7 linked regions of the Homo sapiens genome follow. The protein of the gene in region 1 purifies or fractionates together with the protein of each later gene. This does not show direct contact. Each region holds a gene or a part of one and is shown in the gene's direction. Other genes may lie near its edges. The genes, in order: CDK20, ALDH3B1, NFXL1, TRAFD1, NPEPPS, EDRF1 and WRAP53.

Region 1 (3,697 bases):
ACTACTCTCATTGTACCCTGTTCCTTCTCCCTGGCCCAGGAGCTCACTGAGCTGCCGGACTACAACAAGATCTCCTTTAAGGAGCAGGTGCCCATGCCCCTGGAGGAGGTGCTGCCTGACGTCTCTCCCCAGGCATTGGATCTGCTGGGTCAATTCCTTCTCTACCCTCCTCACCAGCGCATCGCAGCTTCCAAGGTAGGGGGAGAGGCTGTAGTCTCTGCTCCTTCAGCTCCCCTCCCCATCACCCTGGTACTCTGTACTTGGTAGCCATGTGACCCCATCACATCAGCGACCCTCAGAACCTGTGATTGGCATGGACCAGCACCAGACATCTGGAACCCAGGGGACAGGGGCCTTGGAGCAGGTGTGCCTCTCATGAGTAGACCCCACTGGACATCCCCAGACTTCCCCTGAGGGTGGCCCATACGAGGGGCATGCCCAACTCTCAGGAGAGCGCGTGTCCGGGAGTGCAGGTTTCTGGGCTGCCCCTGACCCTGTGGCAGATACAGTAAGAGAGTCACTGGGGACTCATTCCTTTATTCCATTAGCAAGTATTTTCTGCACATCTGGCACATGCAGGGATTGTCCTGGGCCCTGCACAGATGGTAAACAATCAGTCCTACCTCCGCGGGGCACTCCTGGTGGTGAGGTAGCTCCAGGTCCAAAAGGTCACAAGAGGTCATGTTCTCCAGCTGTGGGAGCCCCAGGAGAGAGGCAAGGCCGACTTTGGGGTCAAGCAAAGCTTCCTGGTGGAGGGCAGGTTTAAGCATGAGATGTTTGAGGAGGTGTTCGCTGAAGAGAGAAATGGTGGGCAGAGGCCTGGAAGAGAGGACCCAGGAAGGCTGGTTATGGCTGGTAGGCCTGGGAGGACGATGACCACAGGAGCATGGGCTGACAGGTGTCAGGGTGTCTCTCAGGGGTCCCTGTCCCCTCCCTGCACTCAGCACCAGCCGCGTGTGTTTACATACGCCCTCTTGGTCTCCACTGTCAGCAGCTCCTGTGGGCTCTGTGTCCACAGTGTACCCAAGCCGTGTGACCCTTATCTCTTGGGTTGCCTCCCAGAATCTGGGTCTCCCCTCATCCCATTTAATCTCTTCTCCACCTGGCAGACAGAGTAACTTTATCCAAGTAGAACAGGACACATTCCTTCTCTGCCAGGGCCCTCCTGTGGCTCCATCTCAGAGGAAAAGCCAGGGTCCTTTTTGTGACCCACAGATGTCGTATGCTTGGGTGCCATCACCTCATGACGCTGCCTGCTGTTGTGCCCTGTGCTCACTCCTCTCCAGCCCCAGGGGTCAGTACACTTTTGTCCCTGGCCTGGAGCCTCATGTCCCACTTGCTTATGTCTCAAGTCTTGGCTTAAATGTCACTTCTCAGATGGCCTTCCCTCATGACTCTTCAGATCTGCAACCTCTCTCCAGGATTCCTCATTCCTCTGTCTTGCTTTCTCTCTTCCACTGCACTAATCATTATCTGACATACTGTGTATTTTACTTCATCTTGTTTATTACCCCCCACCCTCACTTATGTCAGAAAAACAGAGCTTTTGTCTGTTTTATTAACGGCTATGTTCCCAGCTTCTGGAATAGTGCTTCAGACATAGTAGACACTCAGAAAACACCCAGACACACTGAGTCAGCTGAATGCATAGATGAAGGAACATCTGCTTGAGGCTGGGGACAGGGAGGTGACTAGTTTCCTTCTGCTGTTCCTTACTTGCCACCCTCAGGCTCTCCTCCATCAGTACTTCTTCACAGCTCCCCTGCCTGCCCATCCATCTGAGCTGCCGATTCCTCAGCGTCTAGGGGGACCTGCCCCCAAGGCCCATCCAGGGCCCCCCCACATCCATGACTTCCACGTGGACCGGCCTCTTGAGGAGTCGCTGTTGAACCCAGAGCTGATTCGGCCCTTCATCCTGGAGGGGTGAGAAGTTGGCCCTGGTCCCGTCTGCCTGCTCCTCAGGACCACTCAGTCCACCTGTTCCTCTGCCACCTGCCTGGCTTCACCCTCCAAGGCCTCCCCATGGCCACAGTGGGCCCACACCACACCCTGCCCCTTAGCCCTTGCGAGGGTTGGTCTCGAGGCAGAGGTCATGTTCCCAGCCAAGAGTATGAGAACATCCAGTCGAGCAGAGGAGATTCATGGCCTGTGCTCGGTGAGCCTTACCTTCTGTGTGCTACTGACGTACCCATCAGGACAGTGAGCTCTGCTGCCAGTCAAGGCCTGCATATGCAGAATGACGATGCCTGCCTTGGTGCTGCTTCCCCGAGTGCTGCCTCCTGGTCAAGGAGAAGTGCAGAGAGTAAGGTGTCCTTATGTTGGAAACTCAAGTGGAAGGAAGATTTGGTTTGGTTTTATTCTCAGAGCCATTAAACACTAGTTCAGTATGTGAGATATAGATTCTAAAAACCTCAGGTGGCTCTGCCTTATGTCTGTTCCTCCTTCATTTCTCTCAAGGGAAATGGCTAAGGTGGCATTGTCTCATGGCTCTCGTTTTTGGGGTCATGGGGAGGGTAGCACCAGGCATAGCCACTTTTGCCCTGAGGGACTCCTGTGTACTTCACATCACTGAGCACTCATTTAGAAGTGAGGGAGACAGAAGTCTAGGCCCAGGGATGGCTCCAGTTGGGGATCCAGCAGGAGACCCTCTGCACATGAGGCTGGTTTACCAACATCTACTCCCTCAGGATGAGCGTGAGCCAGAAGCAGCTGTGTATTTAAGGAAACAAGCGTTCCTGGAATTAATTTATAAATTTAATAAATCCCAATATAATCCCAGCTAGTGCTTTTTCCTTATTATAATTTGATAAGGTGATTATAAAAGATACATGGAAGGAAGTGGAACCAGATGCAGAAGAGGAAATGATGGAAGGACTTACGGTATCAGATACCAATATTTAAAAGTTTGTATAATAATAAAGAGTATGATTGTGGTTCAAGGATAAAAACAGACTAGAGAAACTTATTCTTAGCCATCCTTTATTTTTATTTTATTTATTTTTTGATGGAGTCTTGCTCTGTTGCCCAGGCTGGAGTGCAGTGGCACAATCTCGGCTTACTGCAACCTCCGCCTCCTGGGTTCAAGTGATTCTCCTGCCTCAGCTTCCCGAGTAGCTGGGACTACAGGCGCGTGCCACCACACCTGGCTAATTTTTGTATTTTTACTCAAGACAGGGTTTCACCATGTTAGCCAGGATGGTCTTGATCTCCTGACCTCGTGATCTGCCTGCCCGGGCCTCTCAAAGTGCTGGGATTGTAGGCGTGAGCCACCATGCCCAGCCCCAGGCTCCCTTTATTTTTAAAATGTTTATTTTATGCTTCATGTGGATAAACTCTTCTGTGAGCACTCAGGGTGACTAACACTGCTACAGATGCTGGCCTTCAAGCACTTAGTGGAGAGAGAAAACATACTCAACCCTCGTTCTTGGCTTTCAGGAAAGTCTGATGTTTTCATGATATGGCCTCTGTTTATTTCTCCAGCCACATCTTCTGCAGACTGTAAGCTTCTAAGAGAACTTCAAAGAGAACTCTAAAATGTATATAACATTTGCAAGTAAAAGGAGAAAAAATGATTTATCGTGCATACACAAACCAAAAATCTGGTGTAGTTATTTGATATCAAATAACAGAGGCCGGGTGCAGTGGCTCATGCCTGTAATCCCAACACTTTGGGAGGCCAAAGTGGGCAGATCACCCG
Region 2 (4,400 bases), on another chromosome or scaffold:
AGCCTCCATCTCCTTCAGTGGGGTGAATAGTGGTCCCTCAGTGGGCGGCCGTGGTGGTGAAATGAGCGAGGGCAGGCATGGGGATCACACTCCTTACAACCTCACACTGTGGGATGAGTGCCGCGGGGGTGGGCTTGGGGGACCCCAGCCCAGTGCCTGATTCAGGAGTTCCCTATTCTGTGTGTCCACAATGGCTGCCCAGCACCCTCGGGAGATAACAGGCCCAGGATCCCCCCAATCTCAGGCAGAAGGCGGCCTTGGCTTCTCCGCTTGCCAGGGTCCTGCCCTGGGCACTCCCTGGGGGCCTCAGTCCAGAGTGAGTGACCCGTAGGGGCAATGCCAGGGCTGGTTGCCCTGTGGGAGAGATGTGTCCTGTGGCCCTGGTGAGTTGGTTTCAGCGTTGCTAGGAGGGTTGCTGGAATGTTCCCTGCAGAACTCCATCCCCCACAGAGCTCCCGGCCCACAGTCCACCATTCACGTTACGTGCCTTGCATTTTTGTGGTTTCTGCAGAGATTCTTACAAAGGGTGAGAGAGGCACAGGCGTGGTTTGCCTTTGACCACTGGCAGAAGTCTGAAGGTGAGAGTAGAATGGAGAAGGACCCAGGAGAGTGCGGAGTTGAGGGAGATAAATATTTGCAGGCTACTTAGCAAAACACCCAGAGCTGACCTTTGTCGAGTACTTTCTGTGGGCACAACAGCAAATGTTTTATGCAGCGTGATGTCATTTAATCCTCACAATGACACCAGGTGCCATTAGCATCCCCATTTCACAGATGAGGAAACCGAGGCAGAGAAGGTGAGTGATTTGCCCAAGGTCCCACAACCAGTAAGAGGCAGAGCCCGGAGACAGGCCTGATGGTGGCTCGAGAGGCTCGTTCTTGGCTCCTGGGTCTCAGTCCTGCTCCCGTGACGAGCCATCCCCTATGGGGACCATGGTGCCTGTCCTGTGTGCGGGCCACTGCCCAGCTTCTCCCAATCAGAGCAGGAAGATGGTGGGTTCAGCCTGGCCCCACAATCACTCCAGCTGAGGGCTGGCCTGGGGCTCCTGACCAGGCTCTCAGTAGCACACTGGTCCAGCAGGGCCATCCTGCAGACCGGAGCAGGTCCCGCCCTCAAGGTGGCCACTTAACAATCACCCACAGCCTTGCGCTCACCGATGCTGGGCCCTGGGCTCAGAACCGACTGTGTGGTCTCATCATTAGCTGGCAGGTGCCATCATTACACCGGTAACATGAGAGGCTTCAAGCACTAGGTCTCAAATAAGTAGGCACAGAGGGGCCTGCCTCCCAGTCTAATGAGGGGGAAATAAGGGAGATGTGGACAGGGTTGGGAGGTGGGTAGAGTGTAACCAGACATTTATCACATGGCACAACTCAGAACGCTGGGGAGCAGAGTCAAGGGGCCACTGTGACAGTGGATGAGGGCATAATCTGGGTGGGCTGCCTGGAGGAAGCATCAGCCAAGCTGAGATCTGGAGGAAAGGGACTCGGAGAGGGAAGGAGGAAAGGGTCACCACGGGTCCTTGGCACCAGGCCGAGGAACGAGTGCGTCAGAGTGCTCCTCCGATGAACTTCAAGTAAACAGGCAGGGCTCGGGGGAATGTCTAGGCCCCTACCCTGCCTGCCAGCTCTGGCTGGCACCAGCACGGAGGCAGGAACGCCCTCTCCCCCGCCCTGATCCTCTCCCCCACAGCTGTTTCTGCCTCCCAGCACCACAGCCCCGGCAGGGTGGGCAGCAGGGCCTCCAGGAGGCCCGAGGTGTTCTCCCCCTCTTCCTGAGGAAGCTGAGGCACAGGGAGAAGAGGCTATTGCCCACTGGCCTGGCCTCCCTGGGCAGTGCCCCCAGGCTGGGGACAGAGGAAGACGGAGAATTCTGTGTCTGGAGTGCTCCAAGGTGGTGGCCATGGTGGCAGTGAGTCACCCCCTCTACTCATCAAGCTCCTGCTTACACCATTCAGACTGGCAGGGGTGAGGCTGCCCCGCCTCCAGGAGGGGCATCAGGGCAGGGCAGAGGCCATGGCTTGGGGTTAATTTCTGTGCGGCAGGAAGAAGCATGGCGCTCTGCCTGCCTGCTCACCCTCGGGGGCTGTGGTGGAGCAGCTGTCCCCAAGCCCACACCCAGTCCTGCAGCCGCCTCCAGGTCCATGGCAGAGGGGAGTGGTGCGAGGGTCTTCATGTGTGTCTGGGAGTGCTCACTGTTGGGTGAAAGGGGTTGCAGGCAGCCTCAGTCCCTGTGGGGTCATCTGAGTGGGTCCCTGTGTGTGTATAAGGTAGAGGTGTCTGCAAGCCCCTGTGGGTGCAGGCAGGTCAGGGGTGCCCAGACCCTGGGGCGGCTGGGTGGTGCCCATGAAGGAGGGGCAGCCCTGGCCACCCAGTTCATGCCACCCCATCTGGCAGGATGGACCCCCTTGGGGACACGCTGCGGCGACTGCGGGAGGCCTTCCACGCGGGGCGCACGCGGCCAGCTGAGTTCCGGGCTGCGCAGCTCCAAGGCCTGGGCCGCTTCCTGCAAGAAAACAAGCAGCTTCTGCACGACGCACTGGCCCAGGACCTGCACAAGGTGGGCTGGGGTTGGGGGTATGAGAGGGTGCACTGGGGCAGGGGGGCATGGAGGGCAGCTGGGACAGCAGGGGATGAAGACACCTGCGCCCTCCATGAAGCGGGGCTAAAAGCAGCTCCTCCCCTAGGCCAGAGCCACCCTTGCACATTCATCCAGTCACTTATTTCTGTATTCATGCAGCAACTATTTGCTGAGCACCTACTATGTGCCAGGTACTGTTCTAGGCTCTGGGGATATAGCAGAGAATAAAACACAGTTCCCATGCCTACGAAGATGACCTTCTATCGGAGACAATAAAACAGCAAATAAATAATTGCACAGCAAGGCCGGGCATGGTGGCTCACACCTGTAGTCCCAGCACTTTGGGAGGCCGAGGTGGGCGGATCGCTTGAGGCCAGGAGTTCAAGACCATCCTGGCCAACATGGCGAAACCCCGTCTCTACTAACAATACAAAAATTAGCTGGATGTGGTGGTGGGCACCTGTAATCCCAGCTACTCAGGAGGCTGAGGCATGAGAATCGCTTGAACCTGGGAGGTGGAGGTTGCAGTGAGCCAAGGTCACACCACTGCACTCCAGCTTGGGCAACACAGTGAGACTCCATCTCAAAAATAATAATAAAGATAATAATTACACAGCATATTGGGTTGAAATATGTGCCCTGGAGACACACCCAGGGTGAAGGGGAGAGAGGGGGCCAGGATCAGGGTGCTGTTGTATATGTGGGGGTCAGGGAAGGTTTCTCTGAGAAGGGGGCTTTAGAGCAGAGACGTGAAGATGGAGGGGAGGCTCCCCATGGATGCTGGGGAGATGGCAGCGGGCACAGCACGTGCAAAGGCCCTGAGGCAGGAGGTGCTGGGTGTTTCTGCTTGAGGAGCAGCAAGGAGGCCAGCATAGCTGTCGGGGGTGGGAGAGGAAGAAACAGCAAAGATGAGGTCTGGGGTATGGGCCACACTATGTAGGGCCTCGGAGGCCGTGAGGCCTTGGCCTTCTCTCTGGGTACAGCAGGCATCATGGCCTCTGTCTAGACCCTGAAGGCTTGGGGCCTCAGCCCCTCCCAATCCCAGTGGCAGCCAAGGCAGAACCCCAAGAAACACACTTCCCCCAACCCCTCACCCATCAGGGCCCATGCACCTGCCTGCCCCTGCCTCAGGACACCTGCCCCTGCCTCAGGACACCACCTGCCCCTGCCTCAGCACATCTGCCCCAGGGGCTGCCCCCGGCTCCTATTCTCTGGACAAAATATCTCCTCCCTTTGCCTTGAAGGCTGTAGTGTTCAGACCTTCCCCCAGCCCATTGGGCTCCCTGGGGACTGACTCCCCCGCCACCACTGAGCTTCTGCCACCGGCCGCCTGCCGGCCTTCATGAGACTTGACCTGACGTCTGTCTGGTCCCTTTTCTCCCTTCGGCTCTGATTCCACCTCCTGCCTTCCCATCCCAGCTGCAGGAGCGGGGCCCTACAAAGGCAGCAGTAGCCCAGAACATTCAACCTGGTCCCTCCCTCTGGACCTGGTCACCCCCCTGTCCCCACCCTCAGCAGGCAGCATCTGCCCAGCGTCACGTGCACCCTCTCAGTTAACCCTTTGGTGAATCTGGTTGGGCAACCACACCCAGTGGCCCCCAGAAGAGGCTCAGAGAGAGTGTGTTCTTGCCCAAGGGCATGCAGCCAGGAAGAGCAGAGCCAGAGTTTGAACCTGGCTCAAAATAGCCCAGTCTCCCAAAGTCAGGTCCCAGGTGACCTAGGAGGTGTGGCGGGCAGGCCACCAGGCTCATGGGGCCAGAGCACAGGCTGTGGGAAAGTCCGTGTGGAAGGCACCTTCCCCCAGCCTCAGTGGCTAGGA
Region 3 (4,400 bases), on another chromosome or scaffold:
TTAAGCCAGGATATTGTCCATCTTTAATCTTTTTTTTATCAGGTTAACTCCCGGTCCATGTTTTGCTTGGTCCTGACACCTAGGCAACAGTCTCTTTAAGATATTCATTTCTTCATTGAAAACTCTTCTTCCTTTATTATTTCATTTCTGATAGAGTTCCTTACTGGGAAAACTAGAGTGGAAGAAAGCCCTTAAGATGATGACAGAACCTCTTGGAGCGAACTTTATAGCCTGCTTTAAAGATTTCTTTGATTTTGTTTTTTTATATTTTTGCCAACCCATAACAAAAGAGCGTAAAAAGCTGAAACCAAAATAACATTTTTTTTTATGTTTAGAAGAGAAATATTTGGGATTATATCCTAAAATGGTGGCTTAGTACTTAGTCTTTCACAAAGCACAATTAATGGAAAATTGACTGTGCTTGCTACTAACCAATATCAGGTCATGAGAAAGAAGTTATTGGGAATTCATCTAAAAATTGTGTACTTGGATAGATGTATGAAAGTAGGCCAACGATATTATTGTTAATGTTAAATTTTCCAAAGACTTAAATCCATTTTTGCTTGTTTTAGTTTTGAATGAGTAATGTGTTAAATTTGTTATTTAGAACAGAAGTTTTAGCACATTTTAGAGAAATGTCTAAAACTTTATGAGGTACCAGTGTACAGAGAAAAAAGTGTTATAAATCAGAGGCTGGGTGCAGTGGCTCACGCCTGTACACCCAGCATTTGGGAAGCTGAGGTGGGAAGATTGCTTGAGTCCAGGAGTTTGAGACCAGCCTGGATGACATAGTGAGACCCCTCCATCTCTATAAATAATCAAAAATTAGCTGGGCATGGTGGTGTGTGTCTGTAGTCCCAGCTACTTGGAAGGCTGACGTGGGAGGATTGCTTGAGCCCAGAAAGTTGAGGCTGCACTGAGCTGTGATCATGCAACAGCACTCAGCTTGAGCAACAGGTTGAGACCCTGTTACAAAAAAAAAAAGAGAAAAGTATTACAAATAAAAAGTATACAGCTTGTTGAATTTTTACAAACTGAACATAGCCAGGTAACCAAAACTTACATCATTAAACAGAACATGACCAAAATTTTCAACACCTTCCTTGCATCCTTCATAGCTATCACTCTGATTTTGAACAGTACATTTTTTCTTGTTTACTTTATATAAATGGAATCATGCACTATGTACTCCTTGTGTCTGGCTCAATGTTTTGTGGTAAGATTCATTCATGTTGTTGTAGTTTCTTCATTCTTGTTGTAGAGTATCCCATTGTGTGAATATACTAAATTTATGTATTTTACCATTAATAGGCATTTGGGTAGTTAAGGAAACTTTTTAATTGTCAGACTTTTTTTTCAGGCAGTTGCTATCCCTGCCCAGAAACCGTAGATGTGAAGTGTAATTGTGGCAATACAAAGGTGACAGTGCCCTGTGGCCGAGAACGTACCACAAGACCACCCAAGTGCAAGGAGCAATGCAGGTGAGTTTGAAGCTTTGCACAAGCTTCCATCTGATGTTGTACAAATTTAAATTCATATTGGCTTTTAATAATTTAATTTTGCTTTAGTGTTTTAAAATATTAATATTCACAGTATACTCATTCTATATGGAATCAGAAGATATGTAAATAGATAATTGTCCTTTAGATGTAATTATTCAATGACTAAAAGTAATTTTTGAAAATTGTACTTTATGATTTAGTCGACCACCAACTTGTCATCATACAAGTCAAGAAAAACATCGCTGTCACTTTGGTTCTTGTCCACCATGTCATCAACCTTGCCAAAAAGTTTTGGAGAAATGTGGTCACTTGTGTCCTGCTCCGTGTCATGATCAAGCATTAATAAAGCAGACTGGCAGGGTAAGGGAATAATACTATTAGAGAAATAGTGCATTGCTGTGGGTTGTACTTTCTTGCTTTTACTTAGTTTTTCAATGAGCAATGATTAAGCACTTATTGGGAAGCACTGTGCTTGGAGCAGGGTACAAGGTAATCAAGACTTGATTTTGTTTTAAGCAACTCACAGTGTAGGAAAGGAGTGAAACCATTGTTTGCAAATACAGTGTGATAGTTACATTATGATCATGATACAGGTGAATTTGGCAGTCCTCCTTCATATATTGTGGTTTAGGGTTATAGATATCTCCTATAATCTTATTTTAAAGATTTATTCACTTTTTAATATTTTATTTAATATTTATTTATTTTTAGTTATTTAATTTTTTTTTTTTTTGAGACGGAGTCTCACTCTGTTGCCCAGGCTGGAGTGCAGTGGTGTGATCTGGGTCACTGCAACCTCCACCTCCCGGGTTCAGTGACTCTCGTGCCTTAGCCTCCTGAGTAGCTGGGATTATAGGTGCCTGCTACCATGCCCAGCTAATTTTTGTAGTTTTAGTAGAGATGGGGTTTCAGCTTGTTGATCAGGCTGGTCTCGAACTCCTGACCTCAAGTGATCTGCCCGCCTCCGCCTCCCAAAGTGCTGGGATTACAGGTGTGAGGCACCACGTCCAGCCCAGCCTCATGAACATTTATTGAGCCCTTACTAAATATCAAGCTTTTTTTTAGGTGCTGAGGAACAACAGTGAGTAAAATGATGGAGATTATATTCAATTGCTAGATGTTGGAGTTTCCAATTGTTTTTCTCATTTCCTTATTGGAAGTAAAGGAGGCTACACTGCCTTTGTTCTACCATTTATAAACTGGATTCTGTCTCAGTTATTAATATCAAATGTCTGTGGAGAGGAACAATTTCATTTAATACAGATAAAATGAAATATTTCAGTAAGCACAATTTATTGATTATTTGAAAAAATTTCAACCTGCTTGAGCAGAGGATACATGGAACTATTTTCTTAGATTCTTAAAATGGCCATATGATTTAATCCCTCTGACTTAAAATTCTTATGTATTTTATTTGTAGCACCAGCCTACAGGCCCTTGGGAACAGCCTTCTGAGCCAGCATTTATTCAGACTGCATTACCGTGTCCTCCATGTCAAGTTCCTATTCCTATGTAAGTATTAGAATTTCAATTAAAAAAAAAAAACAAAAAACTTTTGACATAGCTTAAAGGGTATCTGAAGTCAATCTCCCTTTTTTCTTAGTTCAGTTCATTATTATTTCAGGCCTAGCCTATCAACTAGTGTGTCTGTCTTAACCTTCATTCTTTTCAAACATGTTTGTCATACTTGCATATAAACCTACTATAGATATCTTTTTTTGAGTCTTTACCCCCAGTTGGAGTTTGATGCCCTTCTTAGCTTTCCATAGCGAGTGCATGCAATTACAAAAACAAATCCAAGGAACATCATTTGTTACTTTTCCCGATGATTCCCATACTGGATTGTAAGCTCCCTGAAGACAGAAGAAAGCCAGGTTTTAGATAAGGCAAACTTGGGGAATATTTAAAGGAAGCCTTGGAAATGAGAGGAAGTAGTTTCCTGGATGGGCCAGTGAATGACTGGGACTGAGCTCTAAGGAGCTGAACCTACAGTAATACGGAATCCTGGAATTTTTTATACTTCCAGCAGAGGTTATGGAGTATAGGGGAAAAAGCACAGAATGCTGAGAAGCAACATAAAGTTAGAAAAGGGGCTGTTGTCTACAACTGAGGTGCCAAATTAAACATTGGTATTTCTGGTGTATTGGTCTTTTAAAGAGAGGATTGTTTTTGTTTTTTAATTCTAAAAGCTTTCATTTCCACAACATTCCTCCCAGTTGAAATAGCATGTATATTTTTGTGTATTGGTCACACAGTCAAGTTGGGAGGCAAAGTGTTGTTAGGAGATATATGCACAAATAGGGTAATTTTAGTCTGTAGATTTAATGGAGGTGGGCTGTGTAGTTAGCAGAGAGGTTTTTCATGTAGGTATTCAGTTATTTGAGACTATTCTTTTACTGAGGACTTAAGTTATAATCATGAGGAACCAAGTTGTTGCTAATATCTCTAAGTTAGAATTATTAGTGGCCTAAAATTTTTCCTTGAGAGAAACAGAAGAGACATTGATATTATAATTCATAGGCACGAAAATGTTGTCATAATTACCTGAGTAATTAGGTCATAAGTACCTAATTACCATTGAGTTCCTTAGTCTGTTTTTTTTTGTTTTTTTTTCTTTGAGACGGAGTCTCCGTCACCCAGGCTAGAGTGCAGTGGTTCAATGTCGGCTCACTGCAACCTTCTCTTTCCAGGTTCAAGATGTAGCACAGCATTTGACAGAATCTGACACACTTTCTTGATAAAAACACTCAAAAAACGTGGAAGAAAAGATAATTTTCTTAACCTGATAAAGGGCATCTGTGAAAAGCCCACACAGTTCACTAATACATCGTGGTGAAAGATTAAAAGTTTTCTCCCTAATAACAGGAACAAGACTAGGATGCCTGCTCCTGCCACTTC
Region 4 (4,400 bases), on another chromosome or scaffold:
CAGTTTTATCTGGATACGGAATTGTGTGCTCATTTATCTCACTTAAAACATCTTCATTTTCTCCGAAGGTAGGAAGTAAGCATATTAGTATTTGGTCTGGTTGGAATGTTTGGTAGGAATATGTTGGCAGTTAAATTTTAAAAGAAAAAAACCCAGCAGGCAACTGTTTTATATAATTGTTGCAAATATCTTTTTTATTTCAGCATTTCCTAAGAGGTGAATATGTGCAATAGTAAATGCTTTGTGGTCTTACTTGACAGCTGCTTTTGATTCTTGTTGCTTCATATTATGATGGTGTGGTCCTTAATATTTTTTGTTTTAATTCTAAAGTTTTAGGGGCCTTGTGTATGTAGTATGTCAACAAGTTATCCTGAACAGCCTTGTAAAGTAAATGCTAGACATTTAGTGTCTCCATATTTACCATTAAAATAAAAATTATTGCCAATATTATGAAAAAGGAACCCAGGTTTTCTACACCCTAAGCAGTAATTACTGGCTTTAATTTTCATGGCATTTGTACATACATGATTTACAATCACAATATAACATTTCTTCTTTCACTTTGTTGGTATACTATATGTAACTTAGCTATTCCTTTCTTGCTTAGGTATTTTTAATGACTTTCATTTTTTACCATTCTATGATACTGTAATGAAAATATTCATACATAATCCCAAGAGTAGGATTATTGTGTTACAGAGTATATAATTTTATGGTCCTAGAAATGAATTTTCAGACTGTTTTTAGGCAGTTTATACTACCACCAGTAATGTATTAAAGTATTCATTTCACAACATCTTTAAAAAGTTGGGATGTATTATTTTAACTAAATTAATTCAAAATGAGTAGTTTCCTTAGAAAGCTAAAAATTTGAGAGAAATATGGGAAGTTAAATCTGTCAGTAATTTTCCTCTTTATCCATTTGAGTTTTCTTCCCATCTCTCACAGTTGATTGTTCTGTCACCTTCCAGTGCTGCTTTGAGAGCTGCCTTGGGGTCCCTAGCTTGATAATTCCACCACTGGATGAAAATGAATTTGCACTTCCTTGGTGTCTTGGTCTTTCAGTTTGGAAGAATGACTATAGCTGGAGGCACATCATTTATCCTACTTCAAAATGTTTCTTAGACAATGTCTGAATATTAAAGGTTATTAAAAGAGAAATAAGCTATTTATAATTTAGTATGGGAGACAGTTCTTCTAGTATTCAGCTTCAGAGGCAAAATATGGTATTAAATAATGTGTTTTATGACTATCTGTATTGATCCTGTTCAGTATTTTATTTTTCTGAATTATTGTTATACGTACCTTCTTTAATGTAGTTTTTAGCTGGTGAAATTGGAATTTTACAATGGTCCTATCCAAATAAGTAAAAGTAAGGCCTTTGAATAGAATGTACCTTTAGTTCGAGTACATGTATAATCTTTTCATGTTTAAATGGTCTTACTCTTTCATGTAACATTATCACTTTACCTCCTTAATTTGTATAGCTTAGATATGATCTTTGAACCACTAAACTAAGTGAGAAAGGCAAAAATGAAGTGGAGAGACCAGACTGGTGGAGGAAAGGGTTCAGGATTTCATTTTTGTACAGCTTTACAGTGAAGTTTCTACCAACCCAGCCAGAGAGCATGTTCCTGTAGTCAGGAAGCATCCAGCCTGCTTCGAAAGGCATGTGAGGCATACAGGAGACAATTTCCCCTTCCCCTTTGACTGTCCAAAAGCTGGAGTCTTCTCTTTTTGGTTTGACTTTTCATGGAATAAAATCCAATGAAATTAAACTACTTAAAAGTGAGAGAAAATCAGTGGTAGGGTGTTTTTTCACTTGTTTTTGTTGTTGTTTTGGTTTGTTTTCTGTTTTAAAATAATCCTGGAGCGTATCACTCTGCTTTGGGACATGGATGGTTTTGGAATAGCCTAGCTCCACTCTTTTTGGCATCTGACTTCATGTTGTGATCAGCTCTGACTTTGAGAAAGTAAGGCTGAGCTTTTAGATGTAGTAGTGCATAGCACCGGTAACTCAGAATGTTGCACAGAAGAGCCTTCAGGATTTAGTTCTTTTTTTTTTTTTTTTTGATACGGAATCTTGCTATCCCCGAGGCTGGAGTGCAGTGGCATGATCTCAGCTTTCTGCAACCTCTGCCTCCCGGGTTCAAGTGATTCTCCTGCCTCAGCCTCCCGAGTAATTGGGATTACAGGTACCCGCCACCACACCTGGTTAATTTTTTATATTTTTGGTAGAAGCGGGGTTTCACCATGTTGGCTAGGCTGGTCTTGAACTCCTAACTTCAAGTGATCTGCTTGCCTCAGCCTCCCAATGTGCTGGCGTTACTGCACCTGGAAAGGATTTAATTTTTTTTTTTTTTTTTTTTTTTTTTGAGACAGAGTTTTGCTCTTGTTGCCCAGGCTGGAGTGCAATGGCACGATCTAGGCTCACTGCATCTTCCGCCTCCCGGGTTCAAGCGATTCTCCTGCCTCAGCCTCCTGAGTAGCTGAGATTACAGGCATGTGCCGCCACACCTGGCTAATTTTGTATTTTTAGTAGAGACGGGGTTTCACCATGTTGGCCAGGCTGATCTCGAACTCCTGACCTCAGGTGATCTGCCCGCCTCAGCCTCTCAAAGTGCTGGGATTACAGGCGTGAGCCACGGCGCCCGGCCAGTTTTTTTTTTTTTTTTTTATAGCAACCTCTGCCTCCTGGGTTCAAGCGATTCTCCTGCCTCAGCCTCCCGAGTAGCTGGGATTACAGGTGCCCGCCATCACGCCTGGCTAATTTTTATATTTTTAGTAGAGATGGGGTTTCACCATGTTGGCCAGGTTGGTCTCGAACGCCTGACCTCAGGTGATCCGCCTGCCTCGGCTTCCCAAAGTGCTGAGATTACAGGCATGAGCCACCGCGCCTGGCCAGGATTTAGTTCTTGAAAAGCAGGAATGGTAATAGTCATGAGTTTGTAGGCTAGGTATTCACTAAAGATAAATAATGGAGACTAAAGATTGGACAGGACAGATTTCCATGTGATGCCACTGTGCAAGAAAAGGCATAGATTAGTCAGTAATGCTTGCCTTTTTCTTTGGTCTATTTCCGTAGCAAAAAAGAAATTCCTGTGTTTAACTTTACCATCCATGAGATCCACTGTCAAAGGAACATTGGTATGTGTCCTACCTGTAAGGAACCATTTCCCAAATCTGACATGGAGACTCACATGGCTGCAGAACACTGTCAGGTGAGCCACCAAGTACTCAAATGTTTATACATGTGTTATACTTGCTGTTGTTCGTAAATGTATTCTGTTTGCTATTGTGCAATAGCAAATGAGCATATTGTCCCAAAGCCAATTTACTGATTCTCACTTCTTACTCTAGGTGACCTGCAAATGTAACAAGAAGTTGGAGAAGAGGCTGTTAAAGAAGCATGAGGTTAGTCCATGGAGTGAGTTACCGTGGGCCCAGTCCTGCTGAGATTACAGACCCACATGCAGAGCAGGAAGCCAGTCTGGTTGAGTGTTAGTTCTCCGTGAGCTCACATGCATACTGTTTCTCAAAGCCTGTTTGAGGCCTTGACTATGTAACTGCTGCCAGATTCGGCTACCTGGCTGTTGGAACTCACTTGTGTATGTTGAGACTCGCGAAGTATCTCCCTTTGGAACTGAGTCTATTATTTCTGTTGGGGTTTGGTTATTGGCAGCCTCACTGAATATGAAGCCAGCCCTAGAGTTGCCAGTATGGGATAACCTCTTTAGCACACAGCCTGCCTTACAAGCTGTCATTTCATTTAAAATTCTTTTTTGTTTGTTTGTTTTTTGAGACGGAGTCTTGTTCTGTTGCCCAGGCTGGAGTGCAGTGGTGTGATCTCGGCTTACTGCAACCTCTGCCTCCCAGGTTCAAGCAATTCTCCTGCCTCGGCCTCCTGAGTAGCTGGGATTATAGGCGCCCACCACCACTCCCAGCTAATTATTAGTAGAGACGGGATTTCACCATGTTGGCCTGACCTTGTGATCTGCCTGTCTTCAGCCTCCCAAAGTGCTGGGATTACAGGCGTGAGCCACCACATCTGGCTTCATTTTAAAATCTTGAACACCTGGATAACATGCTATTTAACCTAAGAAATTCCTCAGCATTTGGTGAGAGAGAATAGAGTATCATTTGCTCGCTAGTTGAGATAAAACTGGCCAAAGGTTTTTTTTTTTTTTTTTTTAAATACAGACAGGGTCGGCTGGGCATGGTGGCTCATGCCTGTAATCCCAGCACTTTGAGAGGCAGAGGTGGGCAGATCACTTGAGGTCAGAGTTTGAGACCAGCCTGGCCAACATGGTGAAACCCTGTCTCTGTTAAAAATACAACAATTAGCTGGGCGTGGAGGTGTGTGCTACTTGGGAGGCTGAGGCACGAGAATCGCTTGAATC
Region 5 (4,400 bases), on another chromosome or scaffold:
ATTGCTTGAGCCCAGGAGTTCAAGGCTGCAGTAAGCTACGATGGTGCCCCTGCCACTCCAGCCTGGGCAACAGAATGAGACCCTGTCTGGGTTTGCGGGAGAAGTTATTTACAATGTTTTGAAAATATCCTTTAGCCCAGGCATGGTGGCTCACACCTGTAATCTTAGCACTTTGGGAGGCCGAGGCAGGTGGATCACTTGAGTTCAGAAGTTCCAGACCAGCCTGGCCAACATGGCAAAACCCCCTCTCTACTAAAAATACAAAAATTAGGCAGGCATAGTGATACATGTCTGTAATCCCAGCTACTGGTGAACACTCCAGCCTGGTGACAAAACAAGACTTTGTCTCAAAAAAAAAAAAAAGAAAAGAAAGGAAAAGAAAATGACCCTCAGATATAATTCTCATATCACCAGTTGGCCTTTCTTGACATCTCTTTTAGTCTTCTCTCTTTTTCAGAAATGTGAGTTCTTTGCCAAATGTTTTGAACTGAATTTTAGGTCATTAAATTGTGAGTTTGGGAATATAGTGGAAGGGACATGTGAGTGTTTTAGATTAGTAGAATGACAATCATTTCATTTTCTTTAAGTATTTTCATCTTTTGTTTTTAGGAATGGTGGACTCATCTTTGGTTAAATGAAGGTTTTGCATCCTGGATTGAATATCTGTGTGTAGACCACTGCTTCCCAGAGTATGATATTTGGACTCAGTTTGTTTCTGCTGATTACACCCGTGCCCAGGAGCTTGACGCCTTAGATAACAGCCATCCTATTGAAGTGAGCCATACTTTCTAACCATTAGCCTATGACTGCTCTCATTTACAATGAAATACGTAATTTGTTACATAGATACTTTGGACTTTGAAAATAAGAGAAAATAGCATGGGTGATTTTACTGGTTCATATTTCTAGTCTTGAAAAGCTAGTAAGTCTAAGTTCTAATTAACATTTCTTTTTAAGGTAGGCAGTAAAAAAAAATTGGTCTGGCCAGGCGCAGTGGCTTATGCCTGTAATCCTAGCATTTTGGGAGGCTGAGGCAGGTGGATCACCTGAGGTCGGGAGTTTGAGACCAGCCTGACCAATATGGAGAAACCCCGTCTTTACTAAAAATACAAAATTAGCTGGGCACGGTGGCGCATGCCTGTAATCCCAGCTACTCGGGAGGCTGAGGCAGGAGAATCACTTGAACCTGGGAGGCAGAGGTTGCGGTGAGCCGAGATCGTGCCATTGCACTCCAGCCTGGGCAACAAGAGCAAAAAACTCTGCCAAAAAAAAAGAAAAAGAATAGTATGGGAGAAGTCATACCTATTGGGTAACACTATGGTTCCATTGTTTATGTCAAGGAAAATTCTGGACATATTTTATTGTCAGGGTCTGTTTTGTGAATACTTTAATTCTCTTGACTTAGCCTATCCCTACTTCAGTTTATATATATAAATTTTGTATCTAAAGAACTAGAGTTATAATGCTACTTCAACATATTTAATTAGGCTCCCATATAATTGTAATTCATTACAATTAGTGCAAGAAATCTAATGTTCTTCACCTCCATATCTTCCTCATCACTCCTCTGCAACTACCCCAAAAATAAACAGAACCATAGTGGCTTCTTTCCCAGCAGAACAAAGCCAGGACTGGAACCCAGGCTCTAAGGGATGACAGGAATCATGTTCTATTCAACTTTATTATTATTAGTTACTACATTTTTTTGAGGACCATCGTTATACATTATGAGTGAGTTAAAGGCAGAAAAATGTAAGTTAGAAGGGTTTTCCTAGAAAGCGTTTTATGTAATTCAGTATTACAGGCTATCTGCTTCCTGTCATAACCCTGAATCACACTGTCTGCCAGGTCAGTGTGGGCCATCCATCTGAGGTTGATGAGATATTTGATGCTATATCATATAGCAAAGGTGCATCTGTCATCCGAATGCTGCATGACTACATTGGGGATAAGGTAAAAAAAAACTTTAAATATTTCATTCTTTTATGGTGAAATCATAAGAGTTTTGCATGAAAAAAAGTCTCACTTTATTTGGATTAAGTTCCCAAATAGTTTCTGGCTTGTCATTTTTTTTTAATGACCAAAAAGAATGAGAATTCAATTATTTGAAGTTGACTACTCTGGTCTCTTAGATGAGTGATGTGCAGGTGTGTTTGGGAGTGGAAATGGGAGGCTGTTACAAAACTTAAGAGCAAGAATAGAAGGCATAGAGTACGCATTATTAAATAAAAGGCAGTAGGCATCAGAAGGATATATGTGTTTCAGTGTATCTGATACTTGAGTATTTGAGTAAATTTGTTTTTGATTACTGATATACAAATATACTATAAATTCTGAGATCTGACTTCCCTGGATTTTAAAAATTGTGTTTTCTCAGGACTTTAAGAAAGGAATGAACATGTATTTAACCAAGTTCCAACAAAAGAATGCTGCCACAGGTAATCTCTAATAGCTTGAGATAGAAATGGAGAGAAAGTATTGTCACTCTATCCAGGCTGGGACATTTTATTTTTGTTCTGAATACTTAAGGTCAGGATCCATGTAATAAATAAATTAGCCTTATTTGAAGCTGTGTTCAGGTTGAATATCTCTAATCTCAAAATCTGAAATTTGAAATGCTCCAGAATCTGAAACTTTTTCTTTCCTTTCTTTCTTTTTTTTAATTAAAGTTCTAGGGTGCATGTGCACAATGTGCAGGTTTGTTACGTCAGTATACATGTGCGGGCCATGTTGGTTTGCTGCACCCATTAACTCGTCATTTACATTAGGTATTTCTCCTAATGCTATCCCTCCCCCAGCCCCCTACCCCATGACAGGCCCTGGTGTGTGATGTTCCCCGCCCTGTGTTCAAGTGTTCTCATTGTTCAATTCCCACCCAAAATCTGAAACTTTTTGAGTGCCAACATGATGCTCAAAGGAAATGCTCATTGGAACATTTTAGATTTTGGATATTCCAATTATAGATGCTCAGCTAGTAAGTATAATGCAAATATTCCAAAATCCAAAAGAAATATGAAATTCAAAACATTTCTGGTCCCAAGCATTTTGGATAAGGGATACTCAACCTGCAGTAAGTCATAGGGTCAACATGAATCAGGACTCGTTATCCCTTTGGTCATCCTCCAGCATTCTGCTTTCCATAACTGAGTATTTTGCCAACTTAAAGAGTCTGGGCCGGGTGTGGTGGCTCACGCCTGTAATCCTAGCACTTTGGGAGGCCAGGATGTGCGGACTGATTGAGCCCAGTTCAAGACCAGCTTGCAACATAGCGAGACCCCACCTCTACAAAAAATACAAAAATATTAGCCGGGTGTGGTGGTATGTGCCTGTAGTCCCAGCTACTCAGGAGGCTGAAGTGGGAAGGGTCACTTGAGCCCAGGAGTTTGAGGTTACAGTGAGCAATCATGGCACCACTGCACTCCAGCCTGGGCAACAGAACAAGATCCTGTCTGAAAAAAATAAAAAATAAAGGGAATACAGTCATGTGTTGCTTAACAACAGGGATATGTTCTGAGAAATATGTTGTCAGGCAATTTCATCAATATGTGAACATCATAGAATGTACTTACAGAAACCTACACAGTATGTCCTAGGCTATGTACACCTAGCCTACATGGTATATACCCTGTTGCTGCTAGGCTACAAAATACCTGTACAGCATGTTACTGTACTGAATACCATAGGCAATTATAACACAATGGTATTTGTATACCTGAACATTTCTAAATATAGAAAAGGTACAGTAAAAATATGATATTAAAGATGCTCCACCAGCTGGCTGATATGCCTATAATCCCAGCACTTTGGGAGGCTGGGGCAGGTGGACTGCTTGAGTCCAGGAGTTTGAGACCAGCCTGGGCACCATGCCAAAACCTCGCTTCTATAAAAAGTACAAAAATTAGCTGGGTGTGGTGGCATGTGCCTGTAGTCCCAGCTACTTGGGAGGCTGAGGTAGGAGGATCACTTGAGCCTGGGAGGTCAAAGCTGCAGTGAGCTGTGATTGGGCCACTGCACTCCAGCCTGGGCAACAGCGAAACGCGGTCTCAAAAGAAAATAAGGTGCTACACCTGAATGCAGCTTATAGGACAACTTATAGAGGTTGTTCTAGTTGAGTGAGTGGTGAGTGAATATGAAGGCCTAAGACATTACTATACACTACTATAGATATTATAAATACTTTACACTTAGGCTACACTGAATTTATAAAAATAATTTTTCTTTCTTGAATAATAAATTAACCTTAGCTTACTGTAACATTTTAAATTTACTTTTTAATTTTTTTAACTTTTTGATTCTTTTCAATTCTTTTTTTTTTTTTTTGAGACAGAGTTTCGCTCTTGTTGCCCAGGCTGGAGTGCAATGGTGCAGTCTTGGCTCACCACAACCTCCGCCTCCCGGGT
Region 6 (4,400 bases), on another chromosome or scaffold:
ACAAGCAGTAACTTAACATTGGCTGATGGGTAGTAGGATGGACAAGTAGGAAGTGAGACTGAGAAACATGCAACTAGCTAAGTGGGGAGAAGCCGTTTTCATGTTTGAGGACAGGCTTTCACGCTGATCTAAGCTGTGCTTTAGGAAGGTAAACTTTGACAGGTTGACACATAGACTGGAAAAAGGAGACAGGTGTCACTCATGAGGTTAGCTATGTCAGTGACACTGGAAGAGAATGACAGAGTTGCCGATGTCAGGGAAGCAGAAGGCCTTAGAACTCCCAAGTGAGAGTCTTTTAACACGGCCATTTCACTCCAGTGTATTTAAGCAGTAAAGCATAGTATTTACCAGTCTTGTCACCTAAGTCTAGAGTGTTTCCATCAAGAAACAGAAAATATTTTTTGTGCATGAGACTTACAGTCAAATGAAATGTGCTGTCTTTTTTTTTCTCTCCATGTCACAGTGGGCTCCCTTCAGAAGGGCAATTATTCCAGTCAATCTGGAATGATCCCTGGCTCTTGGCAACATAAAATGAAACTTCAGCTGATTCTCAAGTCATCAAAGGCCTATTATGTTTTGTCCGATGCTGCCATGAGTCTTCAGAAATACGGAAGAGCATTACGATACATTAAATTAGCTTTGCAAAGCCATGGTAAGCCACTATAAATGAATATGTTTAATAGGCACTGGGAAGAGAGAACAGAGAAGGCATCTGAATCACAGTGGAAGTTTACTCCTATTTTTCTAGTAAATCTTTATTTTAAAATGACTGTTTCCAATCCTGTGTGTGTTACCTTCTATTTTAGTTTCTGCTCAGTGGTTTAACATCTCTTTGCTTTGAACTACATGAAGCCGTAATATGTATTGTTGGACCTAAAATAAACAGAATAGATACAGTGCTACAAAGCGTTCAGCTGGTAACACAGTTTCTTCATATTTCCTATGATCATTAATTTTTTTCTGCATTTGTGTTTTTTCTTCTTCCCTCCCTTTCTAAACAGATACTTATTGCTGCCTCTGCACCAATATGCTTTCCGAAGTGCTGTTGTTTCTCTCTCAATATTTGACACTTTGTGGTGATATCCAACTAATGCTGGCCCAGAATGCAAATAATAGAGCAGCACACCTTGAAGAGTTTCATTACCAAACAAAAGAAGACCAGGAGATCCTGCATAGCCTTCACAGAGAGTCCAGTTGCCAAGGTGTGCCACAGGCTTGGACCACGTGGTTCACAGTGGGACTGTGCAGTCTAGCTCATGCTTATTTGAGTATTCAGAAAAGGGGTAGAAATATTAGAGTTTTGATATTTGCTCTGTATTTATTTATTTATTTTTTGAGACGGAGTTTCGCTCTTGTTGCCCAAGCTGGAGTGCAATGGTGCAATCTTGGCTCACTGAAACCTCCGCCTCCCGGGTTCAAGCAATTCTCCTGCCTCAGCCTCCCAAGTAGCTGGAATTACAGGCATGCGCCACCATGCCCGGCTAGCCCACCTTGGCCTCCCAAGGTGCTGGGATTACAGGTGTGAGCCACCACGCCTGGCCTGCTGTTTTATTCATTTCCTAATTTTAAGATTAAGCATGATCTTGTGTATTTGTATAAAATGGTTTTTAAGTATTTTATAATTACTGTTTATATAACTAGAACTAAATATAAAGTAAGATATGAAGACAGTTGTGTCAACTTTTTATTTTATTTTATTTATTTATTTTTTTGAGACACAGTCTCGCTCTGCCACACAGGCTGGAGTGCAGTGGGGCAGTCTTGGCTCACTGCAACCTCCACCTCCTGGGTTCAAGTGATCCTCCCATCTCAGTCTCCCAAGTAGCTGGGACTAGTACATGCGCCACCACACCTAGCTAATTTTTGTATTTTTGTTAGAGACAGGGTTTCACCACGTTGCCCCAGACTGGTCTCAAACTCCTCAACTCAAGCGATCCTCCCACCTTGGCCTCCCAAAGTGCTGGGATTACAGGCACGAGCCACTGCACCCAGCCTTGTGTCAGCTTTTTACACTCTTCTTTTCATGAGGTTCTTCTAGGTAACACTTGTAGTCAGCTAACAAAGCCATAGGTTTCCTTTTGAAAGGTATAACAGTTGGTGAAGGAGGTTAATTAACCTTCTGAATGATTCCTTGGGGCTGAAATAAAGTGATCATTGTTTTTAAAGTTAGTTCATAGCCACCTGTCTTGCTTAATATGTCACTCTGTTTGGAATTGTCAGGCTTTAAAACTGGGAAGTAGAATAATCTGATCCGCAGCAGCGATATCCCTCCCTCTTACCTCAGCACAGTGTGTAACCACGCTGCCATTAACACAGTGAATGAAGTAAAAGATGAGTCTTCTGAAGGTGCTTCTGTAATGTCTCATGGGGTTGTTTTATTATGCTCTTAAATTGTTATACTGAATATTACTTGATGTTTGCCTCCCAGAGTTTTAGACAATTCATAGCTAGAGGAGTATACTGGGGGAGAGGGAAAAATGTGTTATTTTGTAATAGTTTTGCCCTTTCTTCCCCTCTCTCCGTCTTTCTCAAATAATCATGTTTTAATGTAGTAGGAAAGTCCTTGGTGTATTTTTACTACTCCCATCATAGCAATTTCAGTTAAATATTCTTTTTACTCTAGTCCCCACTAGATGGCATTTTTAATCTTCGAGGGCTTCTGTAGCAGCCTCTTCAGTGACTTAAAGTTAATATTGGGACATTATTTCAAGAACTATTTCCATTAGTTAAAAATAGCAACTTTACTTTGTATTAGTGGACAACTTTAGGTCCATTCTAATAAACAAGTGTACCTGGGAAAACCTGGGTCACAGAAATTGTTTGATATTCATAGGCAGGAAAATATTTTTATCCAACATTAATATCCCAAGAAATATAATTTTATAAATAAATAGATCTTTATTATGAAACTTAAATATTGTTGTATTGATTGAATCTTGGTATACTTACACTATATTGCATTTTTTATTACTTAGAATTTAGAATCTCAGGTTCATTTGGATACTGAGGAAGAAGGAATCACATGATTCGCATTGATGTATCCCTTTTTTCTTTTCAGGATTTGCATGGGCAACTGATTTGTCTACAGACTTAGAAAGTCAACTCTCTGTTAGTTGTAAATGTTATGAGGCTGCTAATGAAATCTTGCAGTTTAGTGACTTGAAAAGCCAAAATCCAGAACACTATGTACAAGTATTAAAGAGAATGGGTAACATTAGAAATGAAATTGGTGTGTTTTACATGAATCAGGCTGCTGCATTACAGAGTGAGAGACTAGGTGAGTATCTCTTTAGATTCCTCTCTATTGCTTGTTCTCTCAGAAAATTATGCTAATTTTGTATGAGTCAAGCAAAGAACTGTGGCACTTGATTTTATATCATAAAGAGGTGCTCTATTAGAGAACCTCTTATTATTCTTAAGAAATAGAATTAGGAACACATGATTTTCCCTTGGAATGAATTATTTCAATGTTCTTCATTCTTACTTTTGTACTCACTCCATCTGATCAATTCAGAAGCAAATGGGACATCCAGCCATGTGCCAGGCTCTATGTTGGATATGTAACTGGCTAAAATATGGTTCTCTCTTCATGTTGGGAAGCTAGATAGGAACACAAAGCCTCAAAATGCTGTGGATGAGTACCGACGAAGTATAATGGGAGACTGGGGAAATAAGACATTTATGGAGGTTATAAGTTAGAAGGCTTTTGGGAAAGTGTTGTTGAGCAGGGTGATGCAGGATGTGTAGAGCATCAGCCGGCAAATGTGAGGAAAGGAGGGCACTCCAGACCAAGGAGGCGGTGTGAGGAAGAAGCCAGGGATCTCAAAGGGTGCAAGTGTACGTTTAGAGGGAGCAAGAGGCCTGTGTGAGGAAGATGTGGGATAGTGGGTAAGTAAGATGTGGGATGGCGTAGTAAGATGTGGGATGGTGTAAGTAAGATGTGAGATGGTAAACCATTTGGGCCCATGTTGAATTTGAGTTCACTATGGAACATGTATGTGAAAGGTATAATTTGTAGTCAATTTGAAGTGTGCTAAGAGCTGTAGGGCTAGTGAGACAGACTGAGAACCATTCACATAAAGGTAATAGTTGAAGCCGTGAGAATAGATAAGAATGTAAAGCCTGGACACAGGGACAGAACAGAAAGGGGCTGAGGTAGAACTGAGGTGAGCAGGTAAGCTGAACATCTGTGGGCCTTTGGTTTTGGTTTTGGTTGTTTCTTTTTTTTTTTTTTTTTGAGACAGGGTTTTACTCTGTCGCGCAGGCTAGAATGCAGTGGCATAATCATAGCTTGCCACAGCCTCGAACTCCTGGGCTCAAGCAATCCTCTCACCTCGGCCTCCCAAGTAATTTTTAAAAATTTTTTTAGAGATGAAGTCTTGCTGGGTTGCCCAGGCTGG
Region 7 (4,400 bases), on another chromosome or scaffold:
ACAACAAAACAGACTGGGCTCAGTGGCTCACACCTGTAATCCCAGCACTTTGGGAGGCTGAGGTGGGCAGATCACCTGAGGTCAAGAGTTTGAGACCAGCCTGGCCAACATGGCAAAACCTCATCTCTACAAAAATACAAAAATTAGCTGGGTGTGATGGTGGGTGCCTGTAATCCCAGCTACTTGAGAGGCTGAAGCAGAAGAATCATTTGAACCCAGGAGATGGAGGTTGCAGTGAGCCAAGATCATGTCACTGCACTCCAGCCTGGGTGACAGAGTGAGACTCCATCCCAAAACAAACAAACAAACAAACAAACAAACAAACAAACACAAAACAAAAAACCCAGAATGCTGGTATAGCCAGACTGAGGCAAGTGAGGGGGACAGAGGGGTGAGGACAGAGAAGAGCAGCCACGTCGTGTTGGTTCTTATGGGTAAGGCATTTGGAGTTTATTTGGGAAGTCATGAGAGAGGTGTTTTTTTTTTTTTTTTGAGACGAGTCTTGCTCTGTCGCCCAGGCTGGAGTGCAATGGCGTGATCTCGGCTCACTGCAACCTCTGCCTCCTGGATTCAAGCGATTCTCCTGCCTCAGCCTCCCGAGTAGCTGGGATTACAGGCACCCGCCACCATGCCCAGCTAATTTTTGTATTTTTTTAAATAGAGACGGGGTTTTACCATATTGGCCAGGATGGTCTCGTACTCCTGACATTTGATCCGCCGGTCTCGGCCTCCCAAAGTGCTGGGATTATAGGCATGAGCCACCGCGCCTGGCTTAATTTTTGTATTTTTAGTAGAGACAGGTTTTGCCACGTTGGCCTGGCTGGTCTCAAACTCCTGACCTCAGGTGATCCACCTGCCTCAGCCTTCCAAAGTGCTAGGATTACAGGCGTGAGCCACCATGCCAGGCCATGAGAGAGGTTTTTTTTGTTTGTTTGTTTGAGACAGAGTCTTGCTCTGTTGTCCAGGCTGGAGTGCAGTGGCACCATCTCAGCTCACCGCAACCTCCGCCTCCCAGGTTTAAGTGATTCTCCTGCCTCAACCTTCCGAGTAGCTGGGATTACAGGCATGTGCCACCACACCCGGCTAATTTTTTTGTATTTTTTTAGTAGAGATGGGGGGTTCATCATATTGGCCAGGCTGGTCTCGAACTCCTGACCTTGTGATCTGCCCACCTTGGCCTCCCAAAGTGCTGGGATTACAGGCATGAGCCACTGCGCCCGGCCAAGAGAGTTTTAAAACAGAAGAGTGAATGGTTTATGGGTGGGCAAGAGTGAAATCCAGGGCCAGGCACGGTGGCTCACGCCTGTAATCCCAACACTTTGGGAGGCTGAGATGGGTGGATCACCTGAGGTGAAGAGTTTTAGACCAGCCTGGCCAACATGGTAAAACCCTGTCTCTACTCAAATACAAAAATTAGTTGGGGCTGGGTGCGGTGGCTGACTCCTGTAATCCCAGCACTTTGGGAGGCTGAGGCAGGTGGATCACCTGAGGTCAGGAGTTCGAGACCAGCCTGGCCAACATGATGAAACCCCATCTCTATTAAAAATACAAAAAATTAGCTGGGCGTGGTGGCGGGCGCCTGTAATCCCAGCTACTCTGGAGTCTGAGGCAGGAGAATTACTTGAACCAAGGAGATGGAGGTTGCAGTGAGCCAGGATTGCACCACTGCACTCCAGTCCAGGCAACAGTGTAAGACTCCGTCTCAAAAAAAAAAAAAAAAAAAAAAGATTGGCTATAGTTTTCTCCCACCCATCCTAATCAGGTTCTGCCTCCATCGCTTCCTGAAAGTGCTCTTGTCAAGGTCACTAATGTCCTCTTGGGTCATTCTCCTTTTTTTTTTTTTTTTTTTTTTTTGAGACAGAGTCTCGCTCTGTCACCCAGCTGGAGTGCAGTGGCGCCATCTCAGCTCACTGCAAGCTCTGCCTCCCGGGATCACGCCATTCTCCTGCCTCAGCCTCTCCCGAGTAGCTGGGACTACAGGCGCCCGCCACCACGCCTGGCTAATTTTTTGTATTTTTAGTAGAGACGGGGTTTCACCATGGTCTCGATCTCCTGACCTCGTGATCCTCCTGCCTCGGCCTCCCAAAGTGCTGGGATTACAAGCATGAGCCACCGCGCCCAGCCCCTCTTGGGTCATTCTCTAAATTCGCCTCACTGCATCTCTTAGCAGCATGAGTCACTGTCTCCACCTCCCTGCGCTGGAGCACTCAGGCACTCAGGGCTCTGCTGGGCCTTCTCCTCCTCCATCAGCACTCTTTCTTTTTTTTCTTTTTTTTGAGACGGAGTTTCAAAAAATCAGACCCACCAAGGCATGTGGCAGTTGTGTTGCTCTTTGCTCGGTACCCGCTAGAGGTCTGTTGCCATTAATTTGAAATGAGACCAGTTAGTGTGACTGTGCATCTTTCCTGGCAAGTTAAATGACTATAGTTTCTCTGTTTGTAAAATGGGGATGATTATAATAGCACCTGCCTCACAGAGTTGTGAGAATTAAAATAATCAGTAATGAATTAAAGCACTTAAGGCCGGGTGCGGTGGCTCACGCCTATAATCCCAGCACTTTGGGGGGCCGAGGCAGGTGGATCGCCTGAGGTCAGGAATTCAAGACCGACCTGGCCAACATAGTGAAACCCTGTCTTTACTAAAAATACAAAAATTAGCCGGGCTTAGTGGCGGGCGCCTGTAATCCCAGCTACTTGGGAGGTTTGAGGCAGGAGAATTGCTTGAATCCAGGAGGCGAAGGTTGCAGTGAGCTGATCGCACCACTGCACTCCAGCCTGGGCAAGAGAGCAAGACTTAGTCTCAAAAAAAAATAATAAAATTAAAAAAAAGTACTTAAAACAGCACCTAGCATATAGTAAGTGTTCGGTAAACACTAGTAGTCACTGGTATCAGTTGTGTGCAAGCCAAGAATAGGAGGATGGTATGGTTGAGGTTTACCAGGAGAGAAAGACAAGGGTATCCTGAGAGTGTCTTCAAGAGTGTGCATGCCATGGTGGACTAGAATCTACAGTGGGTAAGGAACTGGACTGTAAATAAGTTTTTGATGAAGCTGAATAAATTGTCATGGTAGAAATAGCAGAGCAGGGTCAGGCCTGGTGGCTCACGCCTGTAATCCCGACACTTTGGGAGGCCGAGGCGGGTGGATCACCTAAGGTCAGGAGTTCGAGACCAGCCTGGCCAATATGGTGAAACCCCGTCTCTACTAAAAAAGATACAAAGTTAGCCAGGCATGGTCGTGATTATGATATTAATGATTATAATATTAAAACATTTTAAAAAATATATCTTGCAATACAGATAGTCAATTTGTTTTCTTTTTTTCTTTCTTTTTTTTTTTTTTTTTTTGAGACAGAGTCTCGCTCTGTGGCCCAGGCTGGAGAGCAGTGGTGTGATCTTGCCTCACTGCAACCTCTGTTTCCCGGTTCAAGCGATTCTCCTGCCTCAGCTTCCTGAGTAGCTGGGATTACAGGCACGCACCACCGCACCCGGCTAATTTTTGTATTTTTAGTAGAGATGGGGTTTCGCCAAGTTGGCCAGGCTGGTCTCAAACTCCCGACCTCAAGTGATCCACCCATTTCCGCCTCCTAAAGTGCTGGGATTACAGGCGTGAGCCACTGCTCCTGGCCAGTCAGTTTGTTTTCAAAAGATTTTTGTGGCTGGTGTGGTGGCTCATGCCTATAATCCCAGCACTTTGGGAGACCAAGGTGGGAGGAATGCTTGAGCCCAGGAGTTTGAGACCAGCCTTGGTAACACAGCCAGATCCTGTCTCTATCAAAAAAGTTGGGCCTATGGTCCCAGCTACTTGGGAGGCTGAGGTGGGAGGATCGCTTGAGCCTGCGAGGTTGAGGCTGCCATGACCTTTGATTGCACCATTGTACTCTAGCCTGGGCGACAGAGTGAGACTCTGTCTCAAAACAAACAACCAAAACCTTTTTGTGCTTTTTTTTTTTTTTTTCCTGCTAGTGTACCAGTTCTATCGCAACCTCTCTCATTAGGTATTTTCATTTTTAGTGTCTACAAGCTTAGCATTTGAAATAGATAACTTTTTTTTTTTGAGATGGAGTCTTGCTGTGTCCCCCAGGCTGGAGTGCAGTGGCGCGATCTCAGCTCACTGCAAGCTCCGCCTCCCGGGTTCACGCCATTCTCCTGCCTCAGCCTCTCGAGTAGCTGGGACTACACGCACCCACTGCCACCACGCCAGGCTAATTTTTTGTATTTTTAGTACAGTCGGGGTTTCACCATGTTAGCCAGGATGGTCTCGATCTCCTGACCTCGTGATCCGCCCGCCTTGGCCTCTCAAAGTGCTGGGATTACAGGCGTGAGCCACTGCACCCGGCCTTAAATAGATAAAATTTGTATAGGTCAGAAAATTGGGGAAGGGTGTATTTGGGTATTTCCAT

Evidence for each region.
Region 2: the proteins of CDK20 (region 1) and ALDH3B1 purify together in Homo sapiens (affinity purification with mass spectrometry; one large-scale study listed by BioGRID and IntAct). This does not show direct contact.
Region 3: the proteins of CDK20 (region 1) and NFXL1 purify together in Homo sapiens (affinity purification with mass spectrometry; one large-scale study listed by BioGRID and IntAct). This does not show direct contact.
Region 4: the proteins of CDK20 (region 1) and TRAFD1 purify together in Homo sapiens (affinity purification with mass spectrometry; one large-scale study listed by BioGRID and IntAct). This does not show direct contact.
Region 5: the proteins of CDK20 (region 1) and NPEPPS purify together in Homo sapiens (affinity purification with mass spectrometry, with the first as the bait; one study listed by BioGRID). This does not show direct contact.
Region 6: the proteins of CDK20 (region 1) and EDRF1 purify together in Homo sapiens (affinity purification with mass spectrometry; one large-scale study listed by BioGRID and IntAct). This does not show direct contact.
Region 7: the proteins of CDK20 (region 1) and WRAP53 purify together in Homo sapiens (affinity purification with mass spectrometry; one large-scale study listed by BioGRID and IntAct). This does not show direct contact.

The regions. Positions count from the first base shown.
Region 1 is NC_000009.12:87,965,692-87,969,388, reverse strand, and holds the end of CDK20 (cyclin-dependent kinase 20), read left to right. Parts: intron 1-39; coding exon 40-195; intron 196-521; exon of another isoform or gene 522-819; intron 820-1,215; coding exon of another isoform or gene 1,216-1,294; intron 1,295-1,716; exon of another isoform or gene 1,717-1,729; coding exon 1,730-1,927; 3' UTR 1,928-2,948; downstream 2,949-3,697. UniProt on the Homo sapiens protein: Required for high-level Shh responses in the developing neural tube.
Region 2 is NC_000011.10:68,012,900-68,017,299, forward strand, and holds part of ALDH3B1 (aldehyde dehydrogenase family 3 member B1), read left to right. Parts: intron 1-2,397; 5' UTR 2,398-2,398; coding exon 2,399-2,560; intron 2,561-4,400. UniProt on the Homo sapiens protein: Oxidizes medium and long chain saturated and unsaturated fatty aldehydes generated in the plasma membrane into non-toxic fatty acids. May have a protective role against the cytotoxicity induced by lipid peroxidation.
Region 3 is NC_000004.12:47,882,960-47,887,359, reverse strand, and holds part of NFXL1 (NF-X1-type zinc finger protein NFXL1), read left to right. Parts: intron 1-1,360; coding exon 1,361-1,481; intron 1,482-1,702; coding exon 1,703-1,862; intron 1,863-2,922; coding exon 2,923-3,014; intron 3,015-4,400.
Region 4 is NC_000012.12:112,131,653-112,136,052, forward strand, and holds part of TRAFD1 (TRAF-type zinc finger domain-containing protein 1), read left to right. Parts: intron 1-3,085; coding exon 3,086-3,221; intron 3,222-3,360; coding exon 3,361-3,414; intron 3,415-4,400. UniProt on the Homo sapiens protein: Negative feedback regulator that controls excessive innate immune responses. Regulates both Toll-like receptor 4 (TLR4) and DDX58/RIG1-like helicases (RLH) pathways.
Region 5 is NC_000017.11:47,590,108-47,594,507, forward strand, and holds part of NPEPPS (puromycin-sensitive aminopeptidase), read left to right. Parts: intron 1-609; coding exon 610-774; intron 775-1,796; exon of another isoform or gene 1,797-1,848; coding exon 1,849-1,953; intron 1,954-2,377; coding exon 2,378-2,438; intron 2,439-4,400. UniProt on the Homo sapiens protein: Aminopeptidase with broad substrate specificity for several peptides. Involved in proteolytic events essential for cell growth and viability. May act as regulator of neuropeptide activity.
Region 6 is NC_000010.11:125,740,000-125,744,399, forward strand, and holds part of EDRF1 (erythroid differentiation-related factor 1), read left to right. Parts: intron 1-463; coding exon 464-652; intron 653-1,001; coding exon 1,002-1,202; intron 1,203-2,220; coding exon of another isoform or gene 2,221-2,240; exon of another isoform or gene 2,241-2,915; intron 2,916-3,058; coding exon 3,059-3,277; intron 3,278-4,400. UniProt on the Homo sapiens protein: Transcription factor involved in erythroid differentiation. Involved in transcriptional activation of the globin gene.
Region 7 is NC_000017.11:7,690,917-7,695,316, forward strand, and holds part of WRAP53 (telomerase Cajal body protein 1), read left to right. Parts: intron 1-4,400. UniProt on the Homo sapiens protein: RNA chaperone that plays a key role in telomere maintenance and RNA localization to Cajal bodies. Specifically recognizes and binds the Cajal body box (CAB box) present in both small Cajal body RNAs (scaRNAs) and telomerase RNA template component (TERC).